4 separate regions of the Homo sapiens genome follow, and regions 1, 3 and 4 are each reported to be linked to region 2. The links are microRNA targets in miRTarBase. Many come from high-throughput screens and were not tested one by one. Region 2 holds a microRNA gene; each other region holds the end of a gene's coding sequence. Distances are from middle to middle.
What was found. Region 2 holds the annotated microRNA hsa-miR-222-3p (AGCUACAUCUGGCUACUGGGU, at 1,541-1,561, shown strand). A microRNA usually pairs through its seed, bases 2 to 8, with sites in the 3' UTR of a target mRNA and lowers its output. Matches are read on the target gene's strand: a 7mer-m8 pairs with bases 2 to 8, a 7mer-A1 pairs with bases 2 to 7 and ends in A, and an 8mer does both.

Region 1: miRTarBase lists IPP as a target of hsa-miR-222-3p. The part of its 3' UTR that is shown has no 7-base or 8-base seed match.
Region 3: miRTarBase lists SMC2 as a target of hsa-miR-222-3p. Seed matches in the 3' UTR shown: 7mer-m8 at 858-864.
Region 4: miRTarBase lists IRS4 as a target of hsa-miR-222-3p. The part of its 3' UTR that is shown has no 7-base or 8-base seed match.

The regions. Positions count from the first base shown.
Region 1 is chr1:45,697,224-45,700,408 of GRCh38, forward strand. It overlaps IPP (intracisternal A particle-promoted polypeptide), which reads right to left. Exons shown (of 9, transcript NM_005897.3): 9 at 1,488-2,967. The coding sequence ends at 2,743. Among named protein-coding and RNA genes, the nearest start is that of TMEM69, 11 kb to the left of the region's middle.
Region 2 is chrX:45,745,412-45,748,596 of GRCh38, reverse strand. It overlaps MIR222 (microRNA 222), which reads left to right and starts at 1,473; the gene lies at 1,473-1,582. MIR222HG (miR222/221 cluster host gene) reads left to right here. Exons shown (of 2, transcript NR_170290.1): 2 at 1-3,185. MIR221 (microRNA 221) reads left to right here and starts at 2,331; the gene lies at 2,331-2,440.
Region 3 is chr9:104,138,791-104,141,975 of GRCh38, forward strand. It overlaps SMC2 (structural maintenance of chromosomes 2), which reads left to right. Exons shown (of 25, transcript NM_006444.3): 25 at 349-2,629. The coding sequence ends at 525. Among named protein-coding and RNA genes, the nearest start is that of SMC2, 46 kb to the left of the region's middle.
Region 4 is chrX:108,720,019-108,723,203 of GRCh38, forward strand. It overlaps IRS4 (insulin receptor substrate 4), which reads right to left. Exons shown (of 2, transcript NM_001379150.1): 2 at 1-2,505. The coding sequence ends at 2,501. Among named protein-coding and RNA genes, the nearest start is that of IRS4-AS1, 15 kb to the right of the region's middle.

The DNA.
Region 1 (3,185 bases), not on the chromosome of region 2:
TATAGTTGTAGACTAAACCAAATATTTTTTGTTTTATTTTTTTTTGAGACAAAGTCTTGCTCTATGGCCCAGGCTAGAACACAGTGGTATGATCTCAGCTCACTACAACCTCCACCTCCTGGATTCAAGTGATTCTCCTGCCTCAGCCTCCTCAGCAGCTGGGATTACAGGCATGTACCACCACCTGCTGCCAATTTTTTGTATTTTTAGTAGAGACGGGGTTTCACCATGTTGGCAAGACTGGTCTTGAACTCCTGACCTCAAGTGATCTGCCCACCTCAGTCTCCCAAAGTGCTAGGATTACAGGCATAAGCCACGGTGCCCGGCCTAAACCAAATAATTTGGATATGAGTGCTACCTAATTCATTAATGCAATTAAAAGTTTTCTATCTAAATAAGTTGATGATGCTTATAGTAATATACTGAAGGACCTTAGCAAAGAAATGGGAAATCGGCAGAGTGCGGTGGCTCACACCTATAGTCCCAGCACTTTGGGAGGCCAAGGTGGGCAGATCACAAGGTCAGGAGTTCAACACCAGCCTGGCCAACATGGTGAAACTCCGTCTCTACTAAAGATACAAAAAATTAGCCAGGCATGGTGGCTCACGTCTGTAATCCCAGTTACTCGGGAGGCTGAGGCGGGAGAATCGTTTGAACCAGGGAGGCAGAGGTTGCAGTGAGCTGAGATCACACCATTGCACTCCAGCCTGAGTGACAGGGCAAGACTCCATCTAAAAAAAAAAAAAAGAAACGGGAAATCAAATCCTTAAGTCAACTAGTTAAATTTTACTGTATGCAGCCGGGCACGCTGGCCCATGCCTGTAATCCCAGCACTTCAGGAGGCCAAGGCAGGTGGATCACCTGAGGTCAGGAGTTCGAGACCAGCCTGGCCAACATGGTGAAACCCCATACAGAAAAATTAGCTAGGCATGGTGGTGGGCGCCTGTAATCCCAGCTACTTGGGAGGCTGAGGCAGGAGAATCGCTTGAATCCGGGAGGCGGAGGTTGCAGTGAGCCGAGATCACGCCTTTGCACTCCAGCCTGGGCAACAAGAGCAAAATTCCATCTCAAAAAAAAATTTTTTTTACTGTATGCAAGACCTTTAATATATATTGCTCCAACTGGCCAGTAGAAATAACTTAAAAGTAACCGCATCATACACCCAGTAAATCTTTCTCTTAGAAATGAACAGAGAACAATTCTTTAGAATGCTTCTCAGGGAGAAAATGAGAAGTTTTGAGAAGCAGTTTTGTTTGGGTCAAGGGGTACTTTCAAATTACACTTATGAGTCAGTATCTATAAAAAGTTTCAGAAGTACCTACAATTTAGCCCTCTACATCCAAGCAGTAGCTTTGCAGTATGCTCTTACTTAGGTTTGCCCAAGTACAAATAAATTTTACAAAGCTTGATAATCTAATAAAATTCCCTCTTCCTAAAGCCAAACAGATAATTTTGGTGACAACAATCTAGCAAAAAAGGAAGAATTTTTTTTTCTTTTTTTTTTTTTTTTTTTGAGACAGGTTCTCATGCTGTCACCCAGGCCGGTGTGCAGTGGCACAATCTTGGCTCACTGCAGCCTTGACCTCCTGGGCTCAAGTGATCCTGCAACCTCAGCCTCCCAAGCAGATGGGACCACAGGTACAAGCCACAACGCCCGGCTAATTTTTATATATTTTTTGGTAGAGACGGAGTCTCATCACGTTGCCCAGGCTAGTCTCGAACTCCTGAGTTCAAGCCATCTTCCCGTCTCACCTCGGCCTCTCAAAGTGCTGGGATTACAGGTGTGAGCCACCATGCCCAGCCTAAAAAAGGGAGAAATTTCTAGGTGCATACTGCCTGCTGGACTGTATAGCCCATTACAACATCTGGTCACTAAGAACCTCCTATTAATTCCTTACTTGCATTCTCAGGATCAAGACAAAAAATATGAGCAAGCAAAAACTTATCATCAAGCAAAAAGGTATCTATCTATTAAAATAGCTAGATATTTCCCAAACACCCCTCCTAGGATATCTGCTGCCAATAAAAAGTTTGGGGCTAGTGAAAACTCTTGGCATTAAATAAAAGTAGGAATCTATTTCATTGGCTTTCTCTGTGGCTCAAACTATGGCCATGGAAAATTATGCTCTGGATATAATTGTGAATATAGAGGTCTTTAAACTGTGTCATTGACACTATTCCTATATCACATAAAGTTTTATGTTACAATTTATACTGCACTGGAGAAGTAGCTAAAGGGACTATTTGCCAGGAAGCTTCTAGTAAATAATTTCTACAAATTTGTAAAATAGGAGTTGTCTACACTTAAACTGGAGAATTCTACAGCATAAATGGCATTTCTATTATTAGTAAACCTGGCAAATCTGTGTGAGCTCTTTATTAATTGGGATATATTCCATATCCATTCTCACTCATATTTTTAGAAAAATCATTCTTGAGTTTATTTTTTTTCTTTAAGAGACAGGATCTCATTCTGTTGCCCAGAGTGGAGTGCAGTGGCATGATCGTAGCTTACTACAACCTCAAATTCCTGGGCTCAAGTGATCCTTCTGCCTCAGCCTTCCAAAGTGCTGGGATTATAGGCATGAGGCCACTGCGCCCAGCCTCGTTAGTCATTTATCTACCAAATACATGGAAAACTCACAGAATCAGAGGGTCTTATCACCAAATCTATGTTTGCTTTGCAAAAGGTCAGGTCCTGCATTTTCAAAATGTTCCTTGTGCTCTGTTATGCTTTATATTTCATAGCACAGCAACGCCCCCTTCACAACGACTGGTGATCATGTTACCAATTTCTGTCCATGTATCTGAATGAGGGTTATAAACTTCAACTGAGTCCAAGGTACCTGGAGCCAAAAAATCATGGCTGGAAGATCGACCTCCAGAAACATACAGAAGACCATTGACTGCCACAACACACATGCCTGCTCTAGGCACTTTCATTGAGGCAACTTCAACCCACTTTTCCTGGTTAAGAGAGAAAAAAAAAATATGTTAGCAGTGTTATGAAATGATAGTAAAGAAATCCACTGAGAAATTCGATATCCCAGTTCTTTTTACATGTTTAAATGTAAAACTATCTAGTCAGGTAAGCATACAGATTTTTTTTTCTTTTTTTTGCTTTGTTTTTTCCTTGGAGACAGGGTCTCGCTCTGTCACCCAGGCTGGAATGCACAGCAACGATC
Region 2 (3,185 bases):
TATAATTTGGCAAGTGAGTTGCCTCTTAAAATTAGACATCTGTGATTAAATAGTTAAATCATTCCCTAGATATGTATATATTTAGAGCTCCCAGAAAGCTGGTTATCTTTTCTTATAGCTAACACATTTTTAAAAAGCCACTTTTCTCTTGGTGATAAATATGTGTGTGTCATACTGTGGTATAGCTGCATGTCCGATCAAATGGTACTAGTTTCCAATTGACAGTAGCTTTATTAAATCTTTTCTAAGTGATAGCTGAAGCATTTTAAATTCACAGCAAAGGATTCTAAGACGTGTACTTGGAGAAAAGTTGCATAGTCATTTACCTTCTAGAATAATCCTAAAAGTAGGAAACAATAATTGGCCATGTGGTCATGTGCTAATAAAAGAACACCTTGTCCAAGATACCAGGCTTTTTCCTGTTTCAGTGCTTTTTGTTCTGACTCTTGCCTCTCCCTGTGGTGTCCTTTCCCACCCCAGGTATGTACATGATTCTTCTCCTCCTACTTCAGGAATCCACTCAAATGCCAGGCCCTCAGTGAGGCTTTTCCTAGCCACCTTATCGAAAATAGCATTCCTCTTAACTGTTTCATTACTCTATGAAATGACCGTCCATATCTATGGAGGTTTTTTTCAGTCTTTTTCTACCCTTTCCTTAAATCTTAGACTTAAACTTCCGTGAGTGCAAGGATTTTGTTCAGTGTTGCATTCCCAGTGCCTGGAATAAAGCACGCAGAAGTATTTCAGTAAGGTACTGAAAGGTACTTATTGAAGGTACTCAGTAAGTATTTCTGGGGTGGATAAATGAATAGCAAAGAGAACACCAATCCTGTGACTTATTTTGTTACCTTCATTGTATCATGGGAGGAAAGCTTGGAACTGACATGCTAGTGAGCACCTGCTTTGAATATTTATTATAATATGCATTTTCTGTAATTTTCTTTGGTGTTTGAGATATTTGGTAAAATAACTGTATTATCCTCAGTTCGTAACACGAAAGAATTTTTTAACTGCAATTTACTTTACATATGTGCATCATTGCTAGATTACCCAAGTTAAAGTGACAGGAAGCAACAAAAATGCTCCAAGCCACAATAAAATGGTAGATTGGTTTTTTGTTTGCTTGTTTGTTTTTCTCTTGTGTATATTTCCATTTTACTGCAAAACATACCAAATAATTGATTGTAGATTTTGTCACAAGGAATCATGTATGCTGTAGAAGTATAGAGATTTTCCACTTTTTTTGTTTGCTGCTGGATCTCCAGCACCTAAGAAAATATGTGGCACTTTATTTAATGTCACTCAGTCAGTATCTGTTGGATAAGTAAATAAATCCAGAGGTTGTTTAAAATTACGTACATGGGAATATTGTCAAAATGTCAATTCATGATCCAAAGAAAATGTGCAATTGAAATCTGATATCTTCTTTTTTCTTCCACAGAGCCCCTCCCCAGAAGGCAAAGGATCACCCAGCTGCTGGAAGGTGTAGGTACCCTCAATGGCTCAGTAGCCAGTGTAGATCCTGTCTTTCGTAATCAGCAGCTACATCTGGCTACTGGGTCTCTGATGGCATCTTCTAGCTTCTGCTTCAGTGTCCTGAGAGAGATTATTGGGCAGTCTTTAATAATGAAAACTTTACCTTGAATTACACACACACACACACACACACACACACACACACACACACACTCACACACACACTCACACACACACAAAGAGAGAGAGAGAGAGAGAGAGAGAGAGACAGAGAGAGAGGAGAGAGTCAAGTTCTAGGGTGTTAAGTCCAACATTATCAGCTGGGGCTTGGGAACCTTCAAGGTTTTATGAATGATGAGGTCTATTTGCTTTCAATACTACAAGGGGGAGGAATCTGGATATTTATCCATGTTTTAGCTCTTACCTGTTTTTGTTTTACCTCTTTTTTTCTCTTTCCCCCCTATGAAAGGTATCATTTGGATAGATCAATCTATTCATCTATCTACCTACCTACCTATCTACCCCTACCCATCCACCCATTTATCCATCCACCCATCCATCCATCCATCCACCCACCTGCCCACGTACCTACCAGTTTATCTATCCGACCTTCCTTCCATCCAGCTTTTTCATCTCTTGACTTTTAGATGGCATTTTCAACATGATGTCATGATTAAATGATGACAACTTGATGATATGATGGTTTAAGGAAATTTTGTTGGTAGTAGGTAAGTCCCAGCATTTCTGACTGTTGGTTTTCTTTTCCTTGTGGTAGAAAAGACAAATGCCAATTTTGAAATCTTGAATGCAGTAGGCAGTTGTGTTGAAATAGTATGTGAGAATTACTTGCAAGCTGAACATCCAGGTCTGGGGCATGAACCTGGCATACAATGTAGATTTCTGTGTTCGTTAGGCAACAGCTACATTGTCTGCTGGGTTTCAGGCTACCTGGAAACATGTTCTCCATTGGCTGTCTCACCAATGCTACCCCTATAATGTTTCTGAATAACTGTTTTCCAGGAGGTATAAACCAGTGGAGTTTATCATTGAATAGAGTGCAGAGAAAGGACCGCAAGAAAGCTGATCACCTCAGCAATGAATGATTTCAATACGATTTCACCCAAATGGTCTCACACACCAGCCTAGTAAACCAGAGATAAGGTGTAATGTCATCCTTCCTTCCTTCTCCCTGCCTCAACTGTCAAAGATTGACAACTTACATGTTGTTTACTTTTTGGCTTCTATTTCTGTTCATAATTATTATCAGAAGGCATAGCACCCACAAGCCTAATCATACTGCCTTACAACCTTATTCCTCTTCATTTTGTCTTCTCACTTACCTGCAGAAACCCAGTTTATTTTTGTTCTCCCTTTACCACACCAGCCTTGTAACTGTTATGAATGACCCTCAATCTCACTGGAATCTGAATCACTCAGGAATTCAAGCAAACTGGATGTTTTAACCACTGTTCAGCTTTCTTATGGAATGACAGAGAACTTGTAAAGATAAAACACCAGTTTGCAGGAAGAAAGGAAGAGAATGGAAATTGCTTCTGGAAAATACTAGTTTTACAATATGTTTTGTTTGTCTGCTCTCTTAAATAAACTTAATCCTATAAACATTTTTTAAGAACTAGCCATTAAGACTGTTAAGTTCTCAATTATAAAGGAATAAAATGTTTTAAGGAGGATTTATTTGCCCTTGCTTA
Region 3 (3,185 bases), not on the chromosome of region 2:
GGGCTAGTGGTGTGCTATAGGAACTTGAAACCTTCTTTGATATTAAAATGTCACAAGAAAAATATCTCACTAGAGCAGCTTTAGTTAGCAACAAAACTGAATGCCAGCTACAAAAGATAGCAACAAGCAGTCAACCACCAGGAAATAGTAAAATTGGGTAATGAAGTACCCAAAGTAAAATTAAGAGACTTCTAAAACAATATGGACAGCTAGCATTCATTTAGGTGCCTCATATAACTATTTAAAGAAATAAAATTATCTCCAAACCATTCTTATCACCAGTATAAAGGAGTAAACTTCAAGTATATCACAAAAAGTTTTTTTATACTTTTTTCTTTTTTCCTTAAGTTCATTGTGGTGTCACTAAAAGAAGGTATGTTCAACAATGCAAACGTTCTTTTCAAAACCAAGTTTGTGGATGGTGTTTCTACAGTAGCCAGATTTACTCAATGTCAAAATGGAAAGATTTCAAAGGAAGCAAAATCCAAGGCAAAACCACCCAAAGGAGCACATGTGGAAGTTTAAACTACAAAGTTATTTCTTCATCTTGACCTGTTTTTTTAAATGTAAACTTTTAAGGACTTGAGATAACTAATTTGTTTATATACAAAAATTAATGTTACTGTGTTACTTAACCCATGTTTTCTCTTTATATAATCACTTATCGCTTACAAATGAGCATATATTCCTCATCTCTTAACTAGTCTAATTATGGTCCAATTATTGTGGTTGTGATTTTATGCATATCATCAAATGTTTTTTTCTTATGCGGGTCTTTTATATATTAGGGATCCTGAGATACCCGATTCTATATGTAAAAGCTAATATACAAAAAAGCAGATTAAATTACATGATAAATGTAGCTGATCATCAGTGTTTAATTGATTTAATTCCTAAGGCAATATTAATGTGTTTTCTAAAGTCATTCAGGTAAGGAAGAATTATAAATCAGGTAACTGGACCAACAAAGGGAACACATATAAAGCTATTATGCATGCATGGAGCCGTTTGAGGCTAGTTTTTTAAGGCCACAACTCCAGACCCCTGATTTAGACTGAGATAGGAAACAGATCTTGAAAGAATCCTTATTTTAATGATACATGAATATCATGTTCCTATACGCTTAATAATTGGTCTCTACGTTTTAATGATACATGAATATCATGTTCCTATACGCTTAATAATTGGTCTCTACGACTTTAATGTTTTTGTTTTTTTAAGCTGTGTAAGTATTTTTAAATCAAAGCTTAGGAGGTGTGTTGCGTGGTACTATCTGCTGCAAATTTATCTGAAGTTTGTTAATATTTTCCAAGATTTTTGTCAGCCTTTTCATAATCCAGTCATTAACAACCTATTGGTAAACAAGAATGTAGGTGCCAGTAGACTAAACCAAATTTATTTTTCCCTGAGTCTGATATATATATGTATAAATATAAATAACTCAATCCATCTGTTCCACCAAAATAACTCAAAAGTTGGATGATTATTTGTCTTCCGCTTTCCAGTTCAAAGGGATGAAATTCCTTTAGAACTTGAAAGATGACACTAGCGAACACCATGAGAATACTGTCTACAGTTTTTGGTACGTCATCACTAGAACAGTGACCCCAAACTGAATCATGAAAGGTCTGACATGATGTAATCTGATCTTCCATGTGTTATTTTGGCCCCACATCTCTTCTTGATTTTTTAGTCTTATTTCCTTAGTGTTATTATCATACTTCCCCTGATATATGGCCGTACTTCCTGGCCCTGGGCTTGACATTTCCCACCCTTCATTCTCCATACATATGAGATGTCAGAAAACATGCAGTAATTGATATTATGGGACACATTGGAAAGGATTGAATCTGGAATTAGTTCTGTCCACTGTGGAGGGGAGAGGAAATAATGCTGTAAATGTTGAGTTACAGAAAGTCCAATGTCAAATATAGTTTTTTTGTTTCCTTTCAAATGTATTACAGACTGTGCCAAAACAGTTACCAATTCACACTGTCAATATTAAAGTATACCATAGTATACAAATTAGTCAGTACTTGCTGTTAATTTTAATATTTCTGATTTAACAGTTAGTTATTAAGTGGTACTTCATTGCTGTTTTAGCCAACGTTTTAAAAATAATTTGGGAGTTTGACTATTTTGGCTTACGTACTCATTTCCTTTTCTCTGCTAAAAATGTTTTGCTTGTGTGCGTTCCTGATTTTTGTCTTGTATAATCTTGATCTTTGAAAACCCTCAAACATGTATTAAATTGTTGTAACTTTTTTTCATTAGAGGGAAGACATTAAGGGGATTGGGGACATTTGTTTCACACATCTGCAGTAATATGAGTTAACTAATATTTAACAAGCTCTTTCTTTACATTAGCTGCTGTTCTCATTTGTATGTATTGTCATATTTAATCCTCAGAGTAACCTAGTGAGGTAAATACTGTTGTTGTCAGCATGGTGTAATCGAGGAATTGAGTGAGTTGAGCAGAAAAGTTAGGAAACTTGCTCAGGGTGATAATACAGTTAGGAGTGTCAGGGCCCATGGACAAATCTTGTCAGTCTCCAGAACCTAAGATATACTACGTCACTGACAGCTTGAACATTTGTATTTATTGTACAGAATAAATTTAAGAAAAATACCTGTATGAGCAGTATGTACAACGTGAATGTTACCTTAAAGAAGAACCTCAACCATGTGAAGAGAGGATTCATTGTGGTGGTGGCGGTTTTGGCATTTCAAGTAAGCTCACAGCAAATGCAAAGCAAAGACATGAAATTTTCTCTTCCAATAGGGTGGCATAATCTAAAGGCCAACATTCCCACAGATGATAAATATAGATTCTGAGCAAAATACTAGAAACAACTACCTGAGAGTTCAGGAAACTGAAGAAAAACTAGAAAGATTTTGGATGGGAGATAAAATACGGAGGAAGAGACAGGCACAAGCTAAGGTTAATGTTTTTAACCTAAGTACCAGCTATAGTCATGATGCAGCTGTAGGACAGCTAAGGCTGCAGTGGAAAGCCTGGGGTCTTTCTGGTCTGGAGAACTAAAAGATGGGATCTGGGCTAACCACAGCTTCCAGAAAGTGAAGGAGACGTCTCAGAAGGGATAAACGAGGACCTGGAGAAAGAGGTCCCCAGACTTACTTAGTAGATGAAGTCAGCGAAAGTAATTAACCCCTGAACTCTAGAT
Region 4 (3,185 bases), 63 Mb from region 2:
TATATAAACACTATACAGAGTTGCAAAGTCGTCTCCCAAAACTGCAAACGAGATGTTTACAAGGAAAAGAAAGTACAAGAGTATTTACAAAGGAAGACAAAGCCAAAGCAACTCAAAGCATATCTGTGAAGCAGAAATAGCAGATGTAATTAGCTGGTGGAACTGTAAAGTTTCAGTTTTTAACGACCAAGTGACTATGCCTGATATCAAATTAAATGTAGAGGTCACACACACAAAAATATTCCATCATTGTTTTTTCTTAGCAGCATGAACTGATAGCTGGAAGGTAAGTGATAAGTTGGTAAACATATTCCACAAAGATTCTTCCAGCACAATACTGAATAAATTAATTGTCTGTAAACTAATAAATAATGAGAACAAGATTGCATTTGTTATGCAGTACCTGTGACTATGTGTACCTGTTACTATTTGTATAATACGTACTACTGTGTATGAGGTTTCTCATTCATTTATTCAGCAACTGTTACATCTGTGCTGTACCCTCTGTACCCTGTCTGCTGGCAGCTTCTGAACCTAATATGCAAATAAAGTGATACAGTATTTTCCCCCAAGTAATCTTTTTTCCCACAATTCTGAACAATTATTACTTAACTTACTTGAAAAAATAAAATGGTGACAGAAGGCTTGAAAAAAAGTTGCCTAAAGAGCGCGTTGTTATAATGAACAAAAGCCACACTGCGTTATTTGATTAGGTTGGAAAAAGAGAAGAGTCTGAAGGAACTGATAAAGTTGATGCCCTAGCAGTGACCAGTAACTGGAACAATGACTGATCTCATAGCCACGTCCTCTCCTCAGCACAATTTACAAGAGGGAAAAAAGAGCCCACCATCCCTTTGGTTGGTAGGCAAGGAAAAATAGAAGTCAACTCGGTTCTTTGGAAAAGTTAGTTTAGCAACACGTACTATAAGCTTGCTTGAAGATAGAAGTACACGTTCAAAGACATTAAAACCAAGTAGTGAAAACCTTTAGATAAATATTACACTACTTCAAAGTTGCACATTAAATGCGAAGCAAATTTCATTTTAACAGAGTTTACACACAACAGGTACATCTACAATCACATGTACACAGGTACACAAAGTGTGCATACACACGAATATGTACACACACACACTAGTGCTCACACACATACAAACACACCCAACTGTGATATGATGAGGTTTGCCAATGATGGTACAGCAAGCCAAGATTTGTGTGCCACCACGGAACAAAGCTCTAAGCAAGCTTCAAGACCTTTGTACCTATTCTCTGTGGTCACCACCTTGCTAGTGTCACGTTCTCAAAGGTCCAGGTACCTAAAATCTTAATTCAGTTTACATCAGAGGCAAGCAAAAATAGAACGGGGGGGAGCTTGCTCTGATTTTTTTTTTTAATTTGGTACATCTTATATTGGCTCAATATCCAGAAGGAAACAAGGCCTTATAAGAGGTTCTTTTTGGCTTAAGTTTTTGTCAGAATATTGATTGATAAGTAAACACTAATTTCTTGAATATGGGAAATTGATCTCTTTATAGTAGCCATGGGCATAAGAGGAAGAGTGTGCATTGGGGAAAATGGAGAAAGAATAAGAAAAAGTAGAATAGAGGTTGAAAGTGGGGAGAGGCCCAGAGAAGCAGGGAGGGGCCTTGGGAAGAGACTTTTGAAGAGCTTTGTTTCTTTTAGGAGGTAAATGTAGGTTTCACAATAAATGAAAAATAATAGGTTTGGAAATACTCAATCGATTTTCAGGCAGAACATCACAGTGTTGTATGTGAACAAATAGCTGTTTCTCAGTTCTGCCTTTAAAATGTTGGAAATGCTCAATCAAGATATTAGTTTCATTGACATATAACATGAGCAGAATGTTGCAGTTTTGCTAATGAGCAAAACTTGAAATAATCTGCCCTTTAGTCCTGCCTTTAAAATACTGGTAATGCCCCATCAAGATATCAGTTCAGTTGACATTTAATTCATTGATCAAGAAATGTTTTGTGTGTGTAATACTCGGAAAAAAGATTCCAGATCATACCTTCCTTCCAATTATGACAGCTGTTTTTTCTTTATGTGCCCTGGTTTAAAGTTTTTCAACTTCAAAATTGAATCTAAATATTTTACATTATTAAAATTGGCATTGACCAAATTTATATGTATTCTAAGTTACTTTTTTTTAAAGAGGGAAAGAGTTATGAGATGCTCACTTGTATAGTATCTGTTTCCTTTCAAAGGGACAGACTGGGGAGGAAAACCAGAAAACAAAAAACAAAGCACAGTGTAAATATTGTTAATTAGAAATCACTGGATCCATAAGCAGCAGTATGAATGATCTGCATGAATAGGATCATTCAATTGCCAGAGTCCACTTGTAGGCTTGTAGAAATTTGGGTTGCTTTCTACTCAGAAGCCTCTGAGTTTTCTTTCCTTTAGGCAGATCTGGAGTAGACGAAGATAAAATTCCATAAGCATCACTTTTCTTCTAAAATGTGTTTTTGTGGCAATATAATCACTCTAGGAAAAAGATAATAAAACAAAAGTTACTTGCAGAATTAATGTGGAGAGCTGTCACCCCCACCCTGTTTTAAAACAAAACAACACAAAACAAAACAAAATCTAACTAGAAGTTTTTGAGAGATATACAGAGGAGACTGCCTGGGCATGGACATGGTTAATCAACTCTGCTGGCTGCCTGTGAGGAATATCAGCTGGGCAAAGACACAAGGGCAGTTATTCTTCTTGCCCCCAGGCTGTCACTGACATTTCTGGTGGACAGCATCTTTGCACGTGCGTGCACTGTTCTACTTTCTTCCAGTGGAGCCCAAGAGTGAGCCAGGCATTGTGCAGAGAAACAGATTTTTTTCTTCTTCTTCTACATGTTTGACTCTGCCTTCACCAGGTTATGTGGCACAAGTCATAGGATTTAAGTACAGCATTGGTGATGGTCTCTAGACTCAATCATTGAATTTCTTCTAATAGAACAAAGTCATACCTGCAAAGGAGACTTGAAATTCCCATCTGTTTAATAAAAGAAAAAAGTTCCAGCATTATTCTCTTGGCTTTCTGCTTTTGAGTGGGTGCATAATGGGGAGTGTGGCAGGGGGTGATCAGATACATAGAAGAAGGTGCTGGACCAGAGAAGGGATAGGAATAAATGATCAGCAAATTGATTATGGGATGCCAGTGTTACCTTA